2 separate regions of the Homo sapiens genome follow, and region 2 is linked to region 1. The links come from fine-mapping of genetic effects on gene expression. A gene starts in region 1. The other region holds a variant in brackets. All regions are shown on one strand. Distances are between the middles of the regions.

Region 1 (9,197 bases):
CTCAGTCAGTTCTTTCCCGTACCAAACTAGTAACTCCTCGTCTTTGGCAATCCTGCGGAGAGAGCGGTAGAACAGCTGTCCGTTTTTTATGTAGGCTTCAAGGTTCTGCTCTTCCTTATCTCTGGCCGATTGGACCAACCGCAGCCACATGAGACCTTCTGAGGAACCATTTGCTGCTGAGGTGTCTACCTGCGGTTTGAAATAAATGAAAGAAGACAAGAAGGAGAGGGGGAGAGGGACCCTCATGAGGGAATGAAATCAGAAGAATCAAGACCATTTCTTCTATGTTAGTCTTTTCCAAAAATTGTCTGAGACCACGCTTCCAAAAGTTTGGCCCAAGCTGGGACCTGTCCTCATGTTTGTAACCATTAGGCAAGATAACCATTCTTTGAAACACTGCATCAATCATATAGTTTATTTAAGTCACCGTTTTTATATATTGGTTGAATACTAAATGAGGAAATTTCTTCTTATAATTTAGTGTTAACCCCTTGAGAGTTTACTTCTAAGTTATTCCACATTACAAAGGTATGGAGAATTTTGTTTGTTTCAGAAATAAAGCAAGCTTAGATCTTAGAAATTATGCTATGGCAATCATGTTCCTAATCTTGGCTAGAACAATTAATAGATTTTCTTTGTAAAGAAGAATAGGAAATGAGAGGTCTGAATCTTCCAATTCAGACATATGGATTTGATGATGCTTTACTGTCAAAACCATAAACATTTTTATTTAAATACAAACTCTGGGCACTAGCTAATATTACCAAAGAAACTAATCTTTAGGGGATGAAGAAGCCTCCTCAAATGGAAGGCAGATGTACCCAATACTTGTCAAAGAACTTGCAGAAACTAGTTAGTATGCAAATAGCCTCCACCCCAGTGAAATCTCCCAGAGTTTAGGAAGTCGTGTTCATCACCAGGATAATCCAGAACTGAAGCACTGATTTAGATATTTCTAACATTCCAAATCAAATTTTGTCATTTATTCCAAAAAATCAGTTGACAATAATTTGAGTTTAATTTTCCTTTTCTAATTTTTGATGTGTGAAATGGGATTGCTTGCATTATTGCATTTTTCCACAGGCAAAACCTATCTCCACTTGTCATTATAATTATTTTTAGTCCATTTCCAACAGGACATTACCCTCATACACCTACACAGCTACAGTGGAGACTTACCCGAAAGATATACGGTACTGTTCTCTTGTCAGTAGACTTGAGAGCTATGAAAGCTATGCTGTCATATAGGGAAGTATGGCTCAGGACACAGGGACCAAATATAGCATTCTCAGGGATGTCGCAGGTGGTGTAAACGCTGGTAAAAATATCTGTCAGACATTGTTGGACAGCCTTGGCATCTCCATCCCAGATGCCTCGCTGGATGCCAGTATCCTCCATCACTGGAGATAGACACACAGCACAAGAAAGTGAGTTATGTTACTGCTTTTAACGCCATTAACCCAAGCAGAACTGTCCAAATACTAGGTAGATTTTCCTTGCACATGCCTGATTTTTGCATAGCTCTTATTTCAAAATTAAAGCAGATAAACATGGCATATTTTAAAGATGAAAACTAAGGGATACTTGTTAAAATAATTAGAATAGTGGGAGATCTGGAGCTGACTGCTTGGGAGAAAGAAAAGAAAGGGCTAGGAAAGACTAGATAATTTTTGCATTACCTTGATGTTGGATTGGGTAGGTTTTAGAGGTGAAGTTCCAGGCAGAATTATATATATATGTACACACACACACACACACACACACACACATATATATATATATACATATATATAATTTTTTAAACCAGCCTATAGACTTCCCTTACTGAAAGAAACTTCTAACCCTTGGGGGAAAGTGCCTGTCTGCCTATGTATTGAACTGGGTGCCCGGGAGCTGATTTTTTTCTTTTCTTCCAAGGAGGGGAACAGCGTTAGTGAGCAGGCGGAGACAGCGGAGCATGGCGAATGGATTTCAAGTGGAATGTCAGGGCCACTAATTCTGTGTCAGCTAACCTTTCTCTGCAGCCTACAAGAAGGGACGTATGTCTGCTCATTACCATAATCCAACACTGTTCCTCTGAGGCTTTAATTAAAAGCAGCAAGCAGAGGTAATTTTTTTTTCTGGACGTGCTTATTTATGGATGAGAGTGAATCCCGGTTACCTTGTTATACAAGGGGGTGGATTGAGTCACATGTGGCTCATGAAGTGAGCAGGTACAGGACAGGCCTAAAGTGTCCCCAGTCTGAAATACTGTGTGTAATGACTGGTAAATTTTCACTCCCCCTACCCCATATGACCCTTTTTGGGCAAGAGGGGGCAGCCCTGCTTGAGCACTCCTCAGTGGGCTCCCCAGCTGTTTAATCCGCAGCAATTTAGAAAGTAATGCCCCAATGCCCTTTATTAAGGTGTCATAAAGGGACATTTTCCTTCCTCTGGACACCCCATACAAGACTTATCACTAAAAAAAAAAAAAAAAAAAAAAAACAAAAAAAAAAAAACCCAAAAAAACCCAGGTATTTAAATTTTTAAACTAGCTTTGAACTAGCTGCATTGCTTAGTATTTCAGACTAATCAAAATATTCCTCCAAGTTTGTTGTTCCCTAATAATGTCACTGTTGGCAATTATTTATGTATGTTTTATATAATTAAAGTAGCAGGAAAGAGTAGATCTAATTCTTTTCCTGCAAAGCTGTTCATTATGGAATAATGTCAGTGACATCTATTTTTATTTTAATTTATATTAACCAGTTAACCTTACACGTGTGATTACAAGGTGTGCTTTTTTCCCCCCATTCCAGCTAACATAGCCTAAAACTTTGGTTAGCCTCATTTTCCATTCATCCTCTTGCATCCCCCAAATGTCAAGTGTTGGGCTGTATCTCCCAGACAGCAGAAATAAGGGAAAATATCCATAAAGTAGAAACTTTTTTATTCTGCATCATCTATCCCTGGTCATTTTTACCCCATACAAGGTAGACATCCTGATTTTTTCATTTCAAATTAAAATACATTTTAAAAACCCCATAACCTCTTATCTCCTTTTCAACGGAATCCTATTCTCCTCTTTTCAATTTCCTTCAATTCAGCGTTTTATTCCCCAATTTCTCTCTTCCTTTTAAAAATCTCTTTCACACAAGCATTTCATTGTGCCGGGAGGTCGCCCCGTCACTTCGGGCAACAGCAGGGACACAGTCATTAAAATGCAGTTCTACCTAACAATACGGCAAAAAGGTCCTCACTACGCCGCGCTAATAGCGGTCGGAGTCGCAGCGCCAGGCGCCACGAGCCTCAAGCCCATCACAATAACCGCTGGGCAAGAGCCTAGGAGCGCCCGCCCGCGTGCGGTCGCCTTTGCCACGCAACGTTTCACAGCTCCGTGCCCCGCTCTAGGCCCAGGTTCTTATCCGCCTGCCCTGGGAATATACCCCAGAGCCGGCGGGGCTTTCTGAAAGCCGGTCGCTGCTGCCCGCCACTGGCCCGTCCCTCTAGGCAGGCATTGTCTGGCGGCCGCGCGCTCCCCAGTCTCCGGCTTCTCCGGCAAAGTGCTCACCACCCGCTCCTCCTTTTGTACAATATTACTGGCAGTAGACAGCCCCTCAAGAATTATTTTTCTCTCTCTTCTGGATAATAAGGAGACGGAAGACAAAATGTTCTACTCTTTCCACCAAACTGTCTTCCTCCCATCCCCCTCCCACATCAATGCAAATAGACTTACCAGGAATAAGGTCAGTATAGAATCTCCCAAATAAGGCCACCTGGAACCGGGAAGATGCAATCGAGTGTTTCCTTTTGCCTATTGTATCAGTGTATTTCCATGTCAAGAGGTGTTGGTGTTGCCGCCTTTTAGGCTCTTCCTGAAGAGATAAGAGAGAGATGGAGAGATGGGGAGAAAAAGATTGGGGGGGTGGAGGGAGGGAGGGAGGGAGAGAGACGGAGAAACGGAGAGAGTTGTACAGATGGACCCGATGCAGTGACTGACTGGCACGCAGACACACACTTTTTGTTTGCTGCACATAATCTGCCCAATGACGCGTGACAGCCCACGTCCCCTCCCTTTAACTCTTTGCTGGGCCAGGCGCTCCCTCCGGCGCCGCCTGCCTCGCAGCTTTTTCCCCCGGCCTGCCCGCGCCCCGCAGATCCTGAGCGCCTACCCCGGGTGGCAACGCCTCTCAGAGAGCGTCCCGGCCCGCCTCCTCCTAAAGCTCGGGCCCTCTGGGACTGCTAGGAGGGGAAAATCGTTTCAGGATTGGAAAGGAAGGTACCAAAATGATTGGAGAGGGCCTTTCCCCGTTTCACTAGGCACTTGGAGAAGCTGTGACAGAGAGCTGGACACCCAGCGCGTGCGGACCCCGTGCGTATTTCCCCGGAGTCCGCGTTCCGTGAAAGGGAGAGGGGTGCGGTTAGCTCCAGGGATTCTCTAGCCCTGGAGCCACCGCTGATTTGCGCAGCTAGTTGCCTGGGGGTGATAAACGGGCGTCGTCTCTCTTCAGGAGCGCCAACACTACCAAGCTTCCCCCTGCAAAATTCAGAAAGGATGCGCTTTGGTGAGAACTTGGCTCAGCCTTCCCGTGGCTTGGGAGATGAGGTTGGAGTGAGAATGTCACCAGACCTCGGAAGGGGACATAACGGTACCTCCTAGTCCCAGGACACGGGTACGTGGGCGGAGGTGGGGTGTGGGAGGTTGGTGGGAAGAGCGCAGGTTACTGGACTCAAACAGTTCCTGTTTTTTTTTTGTTTGTTTTTGTTTTCGTGGGGTTTTTCCCCCCCTCTGCTTGGTGCGTTCTGCGCAGCCCCAGAGGGAGTCTATAATGGGTACTGTTGGCACTCTGAGGTCTTGGGGTTGGGGGGCAAGGGTGATTAAAAATAAAAATGATTACCAAGATGGGCTCCGGAAAGCTTTTCACATCCAGCGGGTGGTGGAGGAGGGGATGGAGTTGCCGAGGCCGTCTCGGGAGCCTCGTTTGTGCGCTAAGCCACTTAGAGGCGCTGACTTGCCCCTTTAGTGCAGCAGCTGATGCTAATGACTTGAGGTCTTTAACAGCCTGCAAGTTGACTCCTTCAACGGGGCTGCAACACCACGTCGCTGGGGAATCTCGGGCTTCTTTTTCACAGTTCAATTCTCTACTCCTAAAGGAAGAAAGGCCTTTGAGTGGTATAGACAGTTTCTCAACTCCTTCAGCCCCACACACACCACCACTACTTTGAAGTGGGCAATCTGTCAGCATTAGGATAAATCGGATTGTGTAGCTAGCTAAAGTGGAGGAGGCAGAACCACAACGTAAGGAGACAGCCTCGTTGTTGTTTTTCCTAGTGTTGAAATAATGTATTTGGGGAGTTGGCAAAGAGCAGCTTACCATGTTAGTTTGATCCTCTCCCAGCTTTGAGACCCTTCTCTGGAACTCAGTGGGGTATTGAGGCTTTGACAGCCTGGTGACTGCAGTCCCAGGAGGCCAGGGGAGGATTTTGCTGAGGAGAAACAAGTGCAAGGACTTTCCCATGAAGTTCATGTTCTTCCTTGTTCTCTCTCTCTCTCTCTCTCTCTCTCTCTCTGTGTGTGTGTGTGTGTGTGTGTGTGTATTTCCTTCTCTTTTCTGGTTAGTACCCCAGGCAAATTCCGAATTGCTGCCTAGAATTAAGCTGAAATTCACAGAAGGAAGGGCTGCAAAATCCCCATATATTCAGAGAAAATGGGGAATCCCTTAGTTTTCAGGTTAGCTACTGACTTTTCAAAGAAAGCTTCTTGAAGTGCAGTTTTATGTACTTTGGCTATGTGCAATTTTATCTACTTCGGCTAAGGTTGGCTCCTAATGACCAAGGCTCAGTGCAATGAGGGCTCTCTCACATGCCTGTATGTAAGAATCTGCAGCTATACTGAGCTACCAATTGTCTTCTGACTGATTGCTCCATTGAATACTAGATTCACTTCTCAGTCTCTCTCTCTCTCTACACACACACAAACACACACACACACACACACACAAAGTATGGACACATGGTCCCCTAATACTTCTTTAAAGAATGGGTGGAAGCATTAGAAATGTGAAAATAATGTCTCAAACATCTGGAAAATAAACCTCAGGTTTGAAGAATAGTGGCCAGAAACTTAAGTTAATTCAGAGTAGAAGAAAGAAGAAAAATAAAGAGCAGAAGAGGCACGGGTGTAAACAACTTCAAGTTAAGAAAGAAAAGTAGCCATAAGAGAGTCATGTGGTCCCTTAGAAACTAGACTGATAAATGCAATATGGTGTGTGAGGAGCAGTGTTTAAGAACATAATTTCATTAATCTGTCTAACAGAACACTCCTTAATGCTTTCTTTTGCTGTTATTTAGAGAATTGGAATTTTATCTTTCAGGAAAAGTCATCTGTCCATGCAAACCATTAAAAAATTATCTTACATATTGTAAATATGTAAGCCTCTACTCCAGAATGTGGACATTTAGAAAATAAACTCTAAATGGAAGGCATTTTTCTTGTGCCTGGCCTTTCTCTTATTAAATACAGAGACCATTTAAACTATATTTCTTTTGAGGTACTAAAACCTTGACTCCAGTTTGTATAAAATAATGTTTTTGGTACTTAAGTTGAGGGTGGAACAGCTTGACCTTTTTATGTCTTAAGCTAGAAAACAGCGACAATTTTATACATCTGAGAAGGGAGCAATTTATTGAGAATCTGGCCAACAGATGCTTCATTTCAGTTTCACTTTTTTGCCCTCTAATTAATTTTTTTCCTACTGCTTTCAGGTAGAGATCCTTAAATATAAGAATTTCTCACATTTTATGAATCTGACCTACCCTTTTTATTATGAGTTAAATAACTGACATAACAAAACAATATAAGTAAGATTAAGTCGAAATTCTTACTTGAAGAGTTTTCTAGTAATTTAAGTGGTACACATTTTGCTTGGTAATATAAATGTCCTAAATGACAATAATTAATAGGGGATAAAGAAAATCTACAAATTATTTTTATTTCTGTAGAAATTTATGGGCTAAAATGGTACATAAACTACTTTGAAATCACTCTGCATTAATACTTACTGGAATTCACTGATACTAAATGAAGGGTTGAGGCATTTATTCAGCCTCAGACAGTACTATAAAAGTGTACCTAGTCAATAGTTTTATGTAATTCATATGGAACAATGGGTTTATGCATATATTTGGAGCTCTCTTCCCTAGGATTTTATTTCCAATTAAGTAATTAGAAGAATGACAATGAAGAGTGGGTATGCTCACCTTGTTCCACTTTAGCAAGGCTCTTTGGAGTCCTGGCAAAAATACACATGTAGGAAACTGTAGTGTTATTTTGGAAGAGTGGGCTGGAGAGAGGTTGATAAATGACACCCCAGGTGGCTTTTATGACCTAAGTGAGAGGGTGGAGAAAGGGTAAGAAAGGGAATTTTAATTCTTAGGGAGTATTAGAATGGGAACACTCTTTCTCTTCCCAGGGTTCAAAAATGGAGCCCAAAATATTTCAACTTCTGTGATAAGAGGCAGGTAACATCTCCAAGAATAATTCACGTAAAGATTATTATCCCATGAGAATGAAAACACACTGATTTTCTTTTTCTATATCTTTCTAGGTCCTGGCTTACCCACCTCTAACTCTATTGCCAAAGCACTATGCCAGCAAAGGCTTGATTGTCAAAAGAGTATGGCAATTCATGGTGAAAGGGGGGGAAAAAACCCACACACTGGAAGATAAGAGGATGCCAATGGAGCAGACAGTGGCAGCTCCTTCCTAAGCTTATTAATTTCCCACAGGGAGGTCTCTGGAAGGGGCTGTGAGGGTTGAGGGAGGAAGAGAATAGATCTTCAAGGAGGAGTATTGTATTACCTAGCCTCACCATTCAGAATAAGGAACTTTTTAAGGGATAAACTTTACTGACTACTTGTACATGAAAGAGAAACAGAAATGATGGGCTGGTCAATTAAGAAAAACACCAGGCCTGTGCCAAAAATGTTGTTCAGAGGGTTGTTAACTCATTTTCTACCACTTTGCCTTTATCAAGAGAAAGATACATGGTGGGTTTTTAAAAAGACCCAGAGGGGTTTGTTTGTTTGTTTTACATTTTGGTGAGTCGAGAAGAGCCATGCTTGCTGAGTTGGGTAAAGGATGATGTGAGGGGGTGGGGTGTGGGAAGGGCTACTCGTTTTTTATAAGTATACATTGCAAACTCAGTTTAGGTCTGTTCCTCACCCTAAGTATTGTAGTTGGCTCACTGGGTATTACATGAGCAAATGTTTTCCAGGCTGGCCCTGGGAAAGCCAGAGACTCAGGGTTGGGTAATTTTGTAGCCTGTGAGGAAGGACTTCAGGCTCCCAACTGTAGGGATCATTACTTCTGACTCATACTTTTCTCTCTTGGGCTTTTCCTCGTAAATGATCCTGCTTTTAATCCTGCTGCTCCTGCAGCTACTACTACCACCATTATCATTACAATGATAATCTACCTTTCTCAAGTTTAAAACTTTCTCTCTTAGCCATTCCCAAGTTTTACTTACACTTGTGTTGGAGTTCAGCTGAGAATGGGATAGTCTTTGAAAGCTGTATGTTATTATCTTCCTCTCCTGGATCTGGGTTGTAGTGAACTGGCTTAATGGCCTCTGAGTATGACTTTTAGAAGGGCTAGCAAACCGAAGTGACATTGTGCACAACTACCAACAGATATGAAATCAGTGCCCCATACTCATCTGTGTGAGTGTGACCTCTGAACCAAATCCAATATCCACTATTTCAACCCCCTGGGTTCTCCCAAATGTTATACTCTTCCCCAGATGAGTGTGTAAAGATCTGGCAAGAAAAGGCTTGGATTTTTGTCAAATCTGTAGGTTCCAAAGTCCTTCCTAGACTCAGACACCACACCCTTTGAACGCATCTCAGTGTGAAGGGGGTTGACTGGTTGTAGCCAGTTCTCCATCAGTCACTCTGAACCTCCTTACCCTCTGGGTCAGGATTTTTAGGCAGACTGCAGATCAGGGGATGTCTAGCAGTCTCAAATTGGTGTCCAGCAGTCTCAAATGAAATTTTGAGAAGTCTAACTCTAGGCCTTGGGAATGTGACAACATTGAGAGGCTTTACATCAAATTTCTTCACACAGCCAGGAGAATGGACATCATCCCAATTCAGTACCTGTGTGCCACCCTTTTCTTCTCTGTTTTAGGTGGATTGTAATTCCTGAGTTAAATAAAGAG
Region 2 (9,197 bases), 25 kb after region 1:
TGCTCAGCAATGAGTGACTCCAGCAGAGGAAGATTTTAATAACCAAGTGGATAGGATTACCTGTTCTGTGGACACCATTCAGCCTTTTTCCCCAGCCACCCCTTTCATCGCCCCAACGGGCCCATGAAGAAAGTTTCCATGGTGGCAGGGATGGAGGTTACACATGGGCTCAGCAACATGGACTTCCACTCACCAAGGCTGACCTGGCTGTGGCCACTGCTGAGTGCCCAATTGACCAGCAGCAGAGACCAACACTGAGCTCTCAATATGGCTCCATTCCTCAGGGTGATCAGCCAGCTACCTGGTGGCAGGTTGATTATATTGTACCTCTTCCATCATAGAAAGAGCAGAGGTTTGTCCTCACTGGAATAGACACTTAGTCTGGATATGGGTTTGCCTATACTGCATGCAATGCTTCTGCCAAGACTACCATCTGTGGACTAACTGAATGCCTTATCCACCATCACAATATGCCACACAGCATTGCCTCTGACCAAGGCACTCACTTTACAGCTAAAGAAGTGTGACAGTGGGCTCATGCTCATGGAATTCACTGGACTTAGCATGCTACTCAACATCCTGAAGCAGCTGGATTGATAGAATATTAGAATGGCCTTTTGAAGTCACAATTACAATGCCAACTAGGTGACAATACTTTGCAGGGCTAGGGCAAAGTTCTCTAGAAGGCCATGTATGCTCTGAATCAGTGTCCAATATATGGTTCTGTTACCCCCATAGCCAGGATTCACAGGTCCAGGAATCAAGAGCTGGAAGTGGAAGTGGCACCACTCACCATCACCTCTAGTTATCCACTAGCAAAAGTTTTGCTTCCTGTTCCCATAACCTCACGTTCTGCAGACCTAAAGGTCTTAGTTCCAGAGGGAGGAACGCTGCCACCAGGAGACACAACAACAATTCCATTAAACTAGAAGTTAAGATTTCCATCTGAACACTTTGGGGTCCTCTTACCTTTAAGTCAACAGACTAAGAAGGGAGTTATAGTGTTGGCTGGGGTTATTGATCCAGACTATCAAGATGAAATCAGTCTACTACTCCACAACGGAGGTAAGGAAAGAATATGCACGGAATACAGGTGATCCATTAGGGTGTCTCTTAGTATTACCATGCCCTGTGATTAAGGTCAATGGGAAAGTACAACAGCCCAATCCAGGCAGAACTACAAATGGTCCAGACCCCTCAGGAAGGAAGGTTTGGGTCACTCCACCAGGAAAAAAAACATGACCTGCTGAGGTGCTTGCTGAAGGTAAAGGGAATACAGAATGGGCAGTAGGAGAAGGTAGTCATAAATACCAGCTATGACCACTTGACCAGCTGCAGAAATGAGGACTGTAACTGTCATGAGTATTTCCTCCTTCTTTTGTTAAAAACATGTTTGTGCATGTATACACTTGTACTGAGAAATTATCCTCATTTTATTTCCTTTTCCTTTATCATGTGACATAAGATTAATTGACTTCATATCAGCATTTAAGTATTGTTAACTTTATGTAATAGTATTTGGATGGGGGTATTGGTGCATTTCCGGTTGTACGAAAGATAGTTGTATTATTTTAAGTGTAATTATGACCTTATTATTGTCTTTATTTGAAGATTATGTATGATCTCAGGAGATATATATGGGTTCAAGTTGACAAGGGGTGGAGTTGTGATAGTTAATACTGAGTGTCAACTTGACTGGATTGAAGGATACAAAGTATTGATCCTGGGTGTGTCTGTGAGGGTGTTGCCAGTAGAGATTAACATTTGAGTCAGTGGGCTGGGGAAAGCAGATCCACCCTTAATCTGGTGGGCACAATCTAATCAGCTGCCAGCAAATATAAAGGAAGCAGAAAAATGTGAAAAGGAGAGACTGGCCCAGCCTCCCAGCCTACATCTTTCTCCCATGCTGGATGGTTCCTGCCCTCTATCATCAGACTCAAAATTCTTCAGTTTTGGGACTTGGACTAGCTCTCCTGGCTCCTCAGCTTGCAGACAGCCTATTGTGACACCTTGTGATTGTGTAAGTTAATACTTAACAAATTCCCCTTTATATGTATATATATAATATATGTACATGTGTATATATAGGGGAGTGCACAGTATATTGTTATATGTGTTCTATTTTATCTTATTGTTCATCTCTTGCAGTGTCTAATTTATAAATCAATTATTTTCAGAGGTATGTATGTATCAGAGAAAACATAGTATATACAGCATTTGGTATTATCTGTGATTTTAGCCATCCACTGGTGGTCTTGGAAATAATTGCCCCATCCTCAGGTAAGGGAGTGCTACAAAGATGTGGACCAGGTGATGAGAACAAACGAGAGAGTGAGGGACACAGAAACCAGCATAACAAGAAGATTTTAGGAGAGGAATTAGTGTTTCTACAGTCTGCTAAGGACCAGAACCTTGGAAGAAGGGCCCAGTGTGAGACCTACAGAAACAGCTACTGACACAGAGACAATGGTGTAGCAAGGAGAGGACAGGGAAGAAATAACTCATCTTTTCTTTTCTCACATGCTCCAATTTCATGTTAATGCCTTCCAATGGCCTAACTCAACCGGAAGCTAACTAACCAGCAAGGTTCTGGAGCATGCTAACGAATCTGCATGAGTCAGCCTCTGGCAATATAGAGCCAGGAGAGGACAGAGAATGGATTTTGGAGAGACAAATGGAGAATAACCATTACATTACTACTATTATTCACAAATAGAATTATCTGAGAACTCTTTCTGAAAACATCTTTTTCATGCACAGTTTCAACTGGAAGTAAAAACTTACTGGGTTTTGTAAACTTAAGCATCCAAGATTTTAAAGAATCATTTCTCAGAGCCCTTTGGCTGGAACATTCCTAGTAGCATTTAGGAAGGATTTCCAGAAGTCTTGGGAGGCTTTGCAAGCCAAAATCTGGAAGAATTTGAGAGTATGCTTTTATTGACTTCCTTTGGGCATCCCCAGGTCTCTCATCATTTGGTGGTTTCCTGTGTCAGCACCAGTCTTACTATGCCTGGTTAGTCACTTGCTGATTGTTTTCAAGGAAGCCAGCCAGGCTTCAACAAAGGGTGACTACCTCAAAACAAATCAGCTGCACAGCAATAGGAACTCCTACTAATGGCTTCCCTTGAATTCACAAACTGTGTAGATTTTAGAATGAAGTAACATTTTCTCTTTCCAACTTTGCCATCCCTGTCTCTTCCTCCTGAACCTGAACTAACCCACAGACAAAAAAATGGAAGAGGACAGTGGTGGAGAAGCATGCTCTCTTTCCTGAAGCCTTAGATTAAAATTATACTCAAGGCCGGTTGTCATGGCTCATGCCTGCAATCTCAGTGCTTTAGGAGACTGAGCTGGGAGGATAACTTGCGACCAAGAGCTCAGGATCAGGTTGGGCAACATAGCAATATTCTGTCTCTGCAATAAATAAATAAATCAAATTATCTGATTGTGGTGGCACGTTCCTGTAGTCCCAGCTACTGAGGAAGCTGAGGTGGGAGAATTGCATGAGCCTGGGAGTTCAAGGCCACAGTAAGTTAAAATTGTGCCACTGCAATCCAGCCTGAGCAACAAAGGAAGACTTTAACTCTAAAAAAAAATTATAGCCAATATCAGAGTCTTGAATATTCACTGTAAACATCAGCACAAACAAAAGCCCGATTTCTAAATCTCATAGAAACTAAGAGTTTGAAAACTTGAGAGGACTGATATAAAGTTGGAAGTCAGTGTTTCAAAGGAGAGAGACAGAGTTAGCTATAGGAAAACAGAAAATTAGGAGTGGAAAGCAAAGAAGAGTCTTGTAAGTAACATATATAGCTGAACAATAAATACAAGTGAAATAGATTGACTTCTAGAATGGCAGTGTGGGAAACTCTGCTGAGCCACTCCTCAGTGAAACTGGTGAAAATTGTGTGTAAAGAAACAACCACTTAAATTCTCTGGAAATGGTCCTAAGGGCAAATGGTAAATAAAGAAATACCTATTAGAGGAAATTATGAATATCTGTCAAGAGAGGTGAGTCTGTGACATTTGAACTGAAACTACTACTTTCCTTGCCCCTCCCAGCTCAGTGAGGCAGAGACTCTACTCCAGACGCTGCAGCCAAGAATATGACTCTTTATATTCCTTAGGTGTCAGCTGCAGGGCTTTCATTGCAATAGGACATAACTTGAGCTTTTTTGGTCCTGCCCGTAGCTGTCTGTTGCTAAGGCTAAGTCTTAGGTGAATACAACTGGGAGGAGGAAGCTTCCTTCTCCCACCCAACACTTTCTTGTAAAAAGGAAGTTCTACCTTGGGTGTGGTGCATTGAGAATGAAACTACCTTTGCAAAAATTATGACAGTGAGAGAAATGTAACCTAGCTGACACTGCCATACTTCTAACTTAACAAGCTAACTGTGTTTGCTCATTCCTGGGTGTAGGCGAAGCTAATTGTGGAAGGAATTTAGCTTATAGTTTAACTTTAAATAAAGGATAATAGTCTCCCCCAAAAACTGACCCCCTCTGGGGACTGAAACCACCTTTGTAGGACTAATGAAAGGCCAAAAGCTTAGGATTATGAGTGGGGAATGAATTCTGGTAAGATGTAGATGTAGTTAAATGATAACCAGCCACAGTTCCGAAGATGACAAGATTTGTAAGTTCTTTAATTGCTCTTATAGATACCAACGGTATTGTCAAAACCCAATATTGGTCTTTGAGGTATTTTTCAGACTTTTGCACTTTGGCTGACCAGTTGATGCCACCTGGATCTGTGACTCATACCAG[G/A]GAACTGACTTAACCAATCCTGTGACCCCCTACCCTGAAACTGACTCAGCACATGAAGAACATTTTGGATACACCTATGATTTCATCCTGAACCAATCAGCAGGACCTAGTCCCTAACCCCCTGCCTGCCAAATTATCCTTAGCCTCCGAGCTTTCAATACTTAAACTCTTTCTTTGCTGCAGTATCTGCTATTTTCAGGGAATTGGCTTTTCTGGGCAGTGGGTAAGATGAACCAATTGGGCTGTTAACAGGAATACTGGAGCCTTGGGAGCCTTTTCCTTGGCCTTTGAAGTAAAGTTTCCACACCATGAGTGGCAAGCTGAAAGACCTGCAAACTCCTCTCTCACCCCATCCACCAAGCATTCAGCAATTAGAGCCAGGGTATTACTCAGAGAGAAGCTTGTCATTGTTTCCACCCCCAACTCCGTGCTCTAGCTCAGAAATTTTGCCTAGGGAGAGAATCAGGCCATAAAGCATGCAACTCTTTATCTCTTCCCAAGGGATCTTACTTTATTCCAAACAAAGTGTAGATAATTTTAAACTTAAGGGCACTCTCAAGAACAGTAGAAGTTGTGGTGAAAAGCAATTGAGAGGAAATTTTGGGACCAAATGAAGATATAGCCTAGACTGTAGGCCAGCTAGTTTGTAAGAGAGAACTGGGAAATAAGATAGCTGACAGGAGCTCTCTTGGAGTTAATACAAATAGCAAACACTGATCTCAGAAACTTTCCCATATAAAGTGTCACAATATTATTAGATTTATTTGTATATCTTTTTTTTTTTTTTTTTTTTGAGACAGAGTCTCACTGTGTCTCCCAGGCTGGAGTGCAATGGCACAATCTCAGCTCACTGCAACCTCTGCCTCATGGGTTCAAGCGATTCTCCTGCCTCAGCCTCCTGAGTAGCTGGGATTACAGGCACCTGCCACCATGCCCAGCTAATTTTTGTATTTTTAGTAGAGACGGGGTTTCACCGTGTTGGCCAGGCTCGTCCCAAACTCCTGACCTCAGATGATCCTCCCGCCTTGGCCTCCCAAAGTGCTGGGATTACAGGCATGAGCCACCATGCCCGGCCAATTGGATTTATTTGTAAAGAAAAAATTATGTTCCAGGGCACTGTTGGAAACAATTAAGCAATAGGCCAGAAATTAGTAGAGTTTAACAGCTAGGTGTAATCAGCGAAAGGGTGGGAGAGAATCTTACCAGTACCACTACTATCCCAGGATAATTGTTAGATATACCCAGAACTGTGCCTCACTGATCAGAGAGCATCAGAGGCTTACCATGATGTGTATGTTGAAAAGTGAGGGAATGGAAGCCAGGGAATAGACTTCAACTAAAATAACTCAGCACTCACTAAACAAATAAACAAGAAAATAATAATCGCAATCCTAGAGGGGGGCGGGGTACCAGTTTCCAGAGTTACTAAGATATATTATCTAAAATGTCCAGTTTCTAACAACAAATTATGAGCATGCAAAAGAATGGAAAAGTATAAATTGTATACTGGATGAAATACATGCAACAGAAACTTCTTATCAGGGTAAATTAAACAATTAAATCAAAAAGCAGAGATTATCAGACTTGATTTAAAAACATGCTTTAACTATATGTTGTCTTCAGGATAAACTTTATATTCAAAGACATAAATAGATTGAAAATAAAAGGATTTAAAAATATCAAAGACCAGGTGCAGTGGCTCATGCCTGTAATTCCAGCACTTTGGAGGCTGAGGTGGGCAGATCACTTGAGGCCAGGAATTTGACACCAGCTTGACCAACTTGGTGAAATCCCATCTGTACTAAAAGTACAAAAATTAGCCAGGCATCGTGGCACACACCTGCAGTCTCAGCTATTTAGGGAGCTGGGGCATGAGAATCACTTGAACCTGGGAGGTGGAGGTTGCAGTGAGTTGAGATGGTGCCACTGCACTCCAAACTGTGTGACTGAGTGAGATCCTATCTAAAAAAAAAAAAAAAAATTCAAGCAAACAACAACCACAAGAAAGCTGGCGTGGCTATACTAATAACTAAGTTAAACAGTTTTGCAGGATACAAAATCACTCTGCAAGAATAATTTGTATGTCTATACACTTACAATAAACAATATGAAAATAAGTTAAGTAAACAATTTCATTCATATTAGCATCAGAAAGAATAAAATACCCACAGGAGCAAATTTAACAAAATAAACGCAAAATTTATACCCTGAATACTACAAAATATTGTTAAAAGAAATTACAGAAGATTAAATAAGTGAAAAAACATACCATGGTCATGGATAGTAAGACTTAATATTGTTAAAATGGCAATATGTTGATCTACAGATTCAACATAATTTTTATTGGAAACCCAGCTGACTTTGCTGACATTGATGGCTGACTCTAAACTTAATGCGAAATTGCAAGGAACTCAGAATACCAAAACAAACCTGAAAATAATAAATAAGGAGAGCTTATATGTCTTGGTTTCAAAACCTACTACAAAGCAATTGTAATAATAACAGAGTGATACTGGCACAAGACAAACATTTTTATTTATTTGCTTAGGTGCCATAGCAGAATATCACAGACTGGATGGCTTAAGCAACAGAAATGTATTCTCTCACAGGTCTTGAGGCTGAAAGTCCAAGATCAAGGTGTCATCAGGAATGGTTTCTGGTATGAACTTTCTTCCTGAGTTGCAGATGGCTGCCTTTTCACTGTCTTCTCCTATGTGAGCATGCACTTGTGGTGTTTCTTTCTCTTGTTCTAAGGATACCCGTCCTATTGGGTTCAGGTCCTACTTTTATGACCTCATTTAATCTTCATTACCTTCTTAAAGGCTGTATCTCCAAATACAGATGGGTTAGGGCTTCAATACATGTATATGGGGGGCAGGAAACACAATTCAGTCCATAACACAATGCACAGAATTGAGAATCTAGAACTAAACCCATATCTCCATGGCCAACTCATTTTGTGCACAGGGTCCTAAAACATTAATGGGGAAAGAATAATCCCCACAAATTGTGCTGGGACAATTGGATAGCCACAGGCAAAAGAATGAAGCTAAACCCTTACCTCATACCATACACAAAAATTAACTCAAAATGGATCGAAGTCCTAAAAACTGAATGTTCTTAGAAGAAAACATAGAGGTAAAATCTTCATGATTTTGGATTTTCTAAAGAATTCTATAATATGATATTCAAATTAAAAGCAACAAAAACATTGAGAACTTGCAAATCATATATTTGATAAGAGTCTTACAGCTACAGTATAGAAAGAGCCCTTGCTACTCAATAATAAAAAAGTGATGCAATTAAAGAAAGAGCAAAGGATTTAAATAGACATTTCTCTAAAGAAGATTTAAAAATCACTAATAGGCACTTGAAAAGATGCTCAATATTATTAGTAATGAGGGAAATTTAAATCAAAACAACAATGAGGTATCATTTCACACATACTAGATTGGTTATAATAAAAAGGACAGATAATAACAAGTGTTGCCAAGGATGTGACAGTTCTTCAGAAGGTTAAGTTATCATATGATCCAGAAATTCTATCCTTTGATAACATATTCAAGGGAGTTTAAAAGATATGTTCGCACAAAAACTTGTATGCCCATGCTCATAGGATCACTATTCATAACTAAAAAGTGGAAACAACCCAAATATCCATCAACTGATGAATGAATAAACAGAATATCTTATATGTATACAATGGAATAATATTTACCCATAAAACCTAATGATATACCGCCACACACTACAACAAGAATGAACCTTGAAAACATTATACTAAGGAAAATAAGCTAGGTACAAACTGACAAATATTTTATAATTCTACTTGTATGAAGTATTTAGATTAGTAAAATTCATAGAGGCCAAAAGTAGAACAGTGGGGTGAGGAGGAAAGGAGAGTTATGATTTAGTGGGTACAGAGTTTCTGTTTGAAACAACGAAAAAGTTCTGGAGATGGATAGTGGTGAAGGTTGCACAACAGTGTGAATGTAGTTAATGCCACTGAGCTGTACACTTAAGGAAAAGTGTTAAAATGGTAAATTTTATGCACGTATATTTTATCACAACTGCACACATTGCAGGTGAGATAATATTTTGTGATGGGGTTTTAATGTGGAGGGAGGGTAAAAAGACACATATGGTGGTAATGTATCTATAGTCTACCTAAAGTAGTGAAATACTTATTCTACGTAGACTGTGCAAAACTAGCATGCTATCTTATAAGCCCTAGTGCAATTGCTTAAAAGCTATACAAAATATATAATAAAAAACAATGGATAAACCTAAATCACTAGCTACCACTTCACAACACTAGAATGGTTGTAAGAAAAAAATAATAATAAGTGTTGGCAAAGATATGGTAGGTAATTTCTCAAAAAGTTAAACACAAAGTTACCATATAATCCAGAATACTAAAAAATGCTTAACCTA

Alleles and levels. Positions count from the first base shown, and alleles are read on the strand shown. Sizes are in standard deviations (SD) of each study's normalised expression.
For the expression in ovary of the gene that starts at base 4,135 in region 1, G is the high allele of the variant in region 2 and A is the other (moderate effect, 0.60 SD a copy in GTEx).

Evidence for each region. PIP is the estimated chance that this variant, and not a neighbour inherited with it, causes the effect.
Region 2: its variant is fine-mapped to the expression of PRDM8-AS1 in ovary (GTEx, PIP 0.92).

Annotation. Positions count from the first base shown.
Region 1 is chr4:80,192,282-80,201,478 of GRCh38, reverse strand. It overlaps PRDM8-AS1 (PRDM8 antisense RNA 1), which reads left to right and starts at 4,135. Exons shown (of 6, transcript NR_183912.1): 1 at 4,135-4,351; 2 at 4,491-4,652; 3 at 9,167-9,197. PRDM8 (PR/SET domain 8) reads right to left here and starts at 3,976. Exons shown (of 4, transcript NM_001099403.2): 1 at 3,716-3,976; 2 at 1,180-1,400; 3 at 1-189. The coding sequence starts at 1,398. RefSeq lists enhancers at 1-655, 4,133-4,748, 4,749-5,366.
Region 2 is chr4:80,167,404-80,176,600 of GRCh38, reverse strand. No RefSeq gene overlaps it. Among named protein-coding and RNA genes, the nearest start is that of PRDM8-AS1, 25 kb to the left of the region's middle. The variant G/A (reference allele first, on the strand shown) is at 4,764.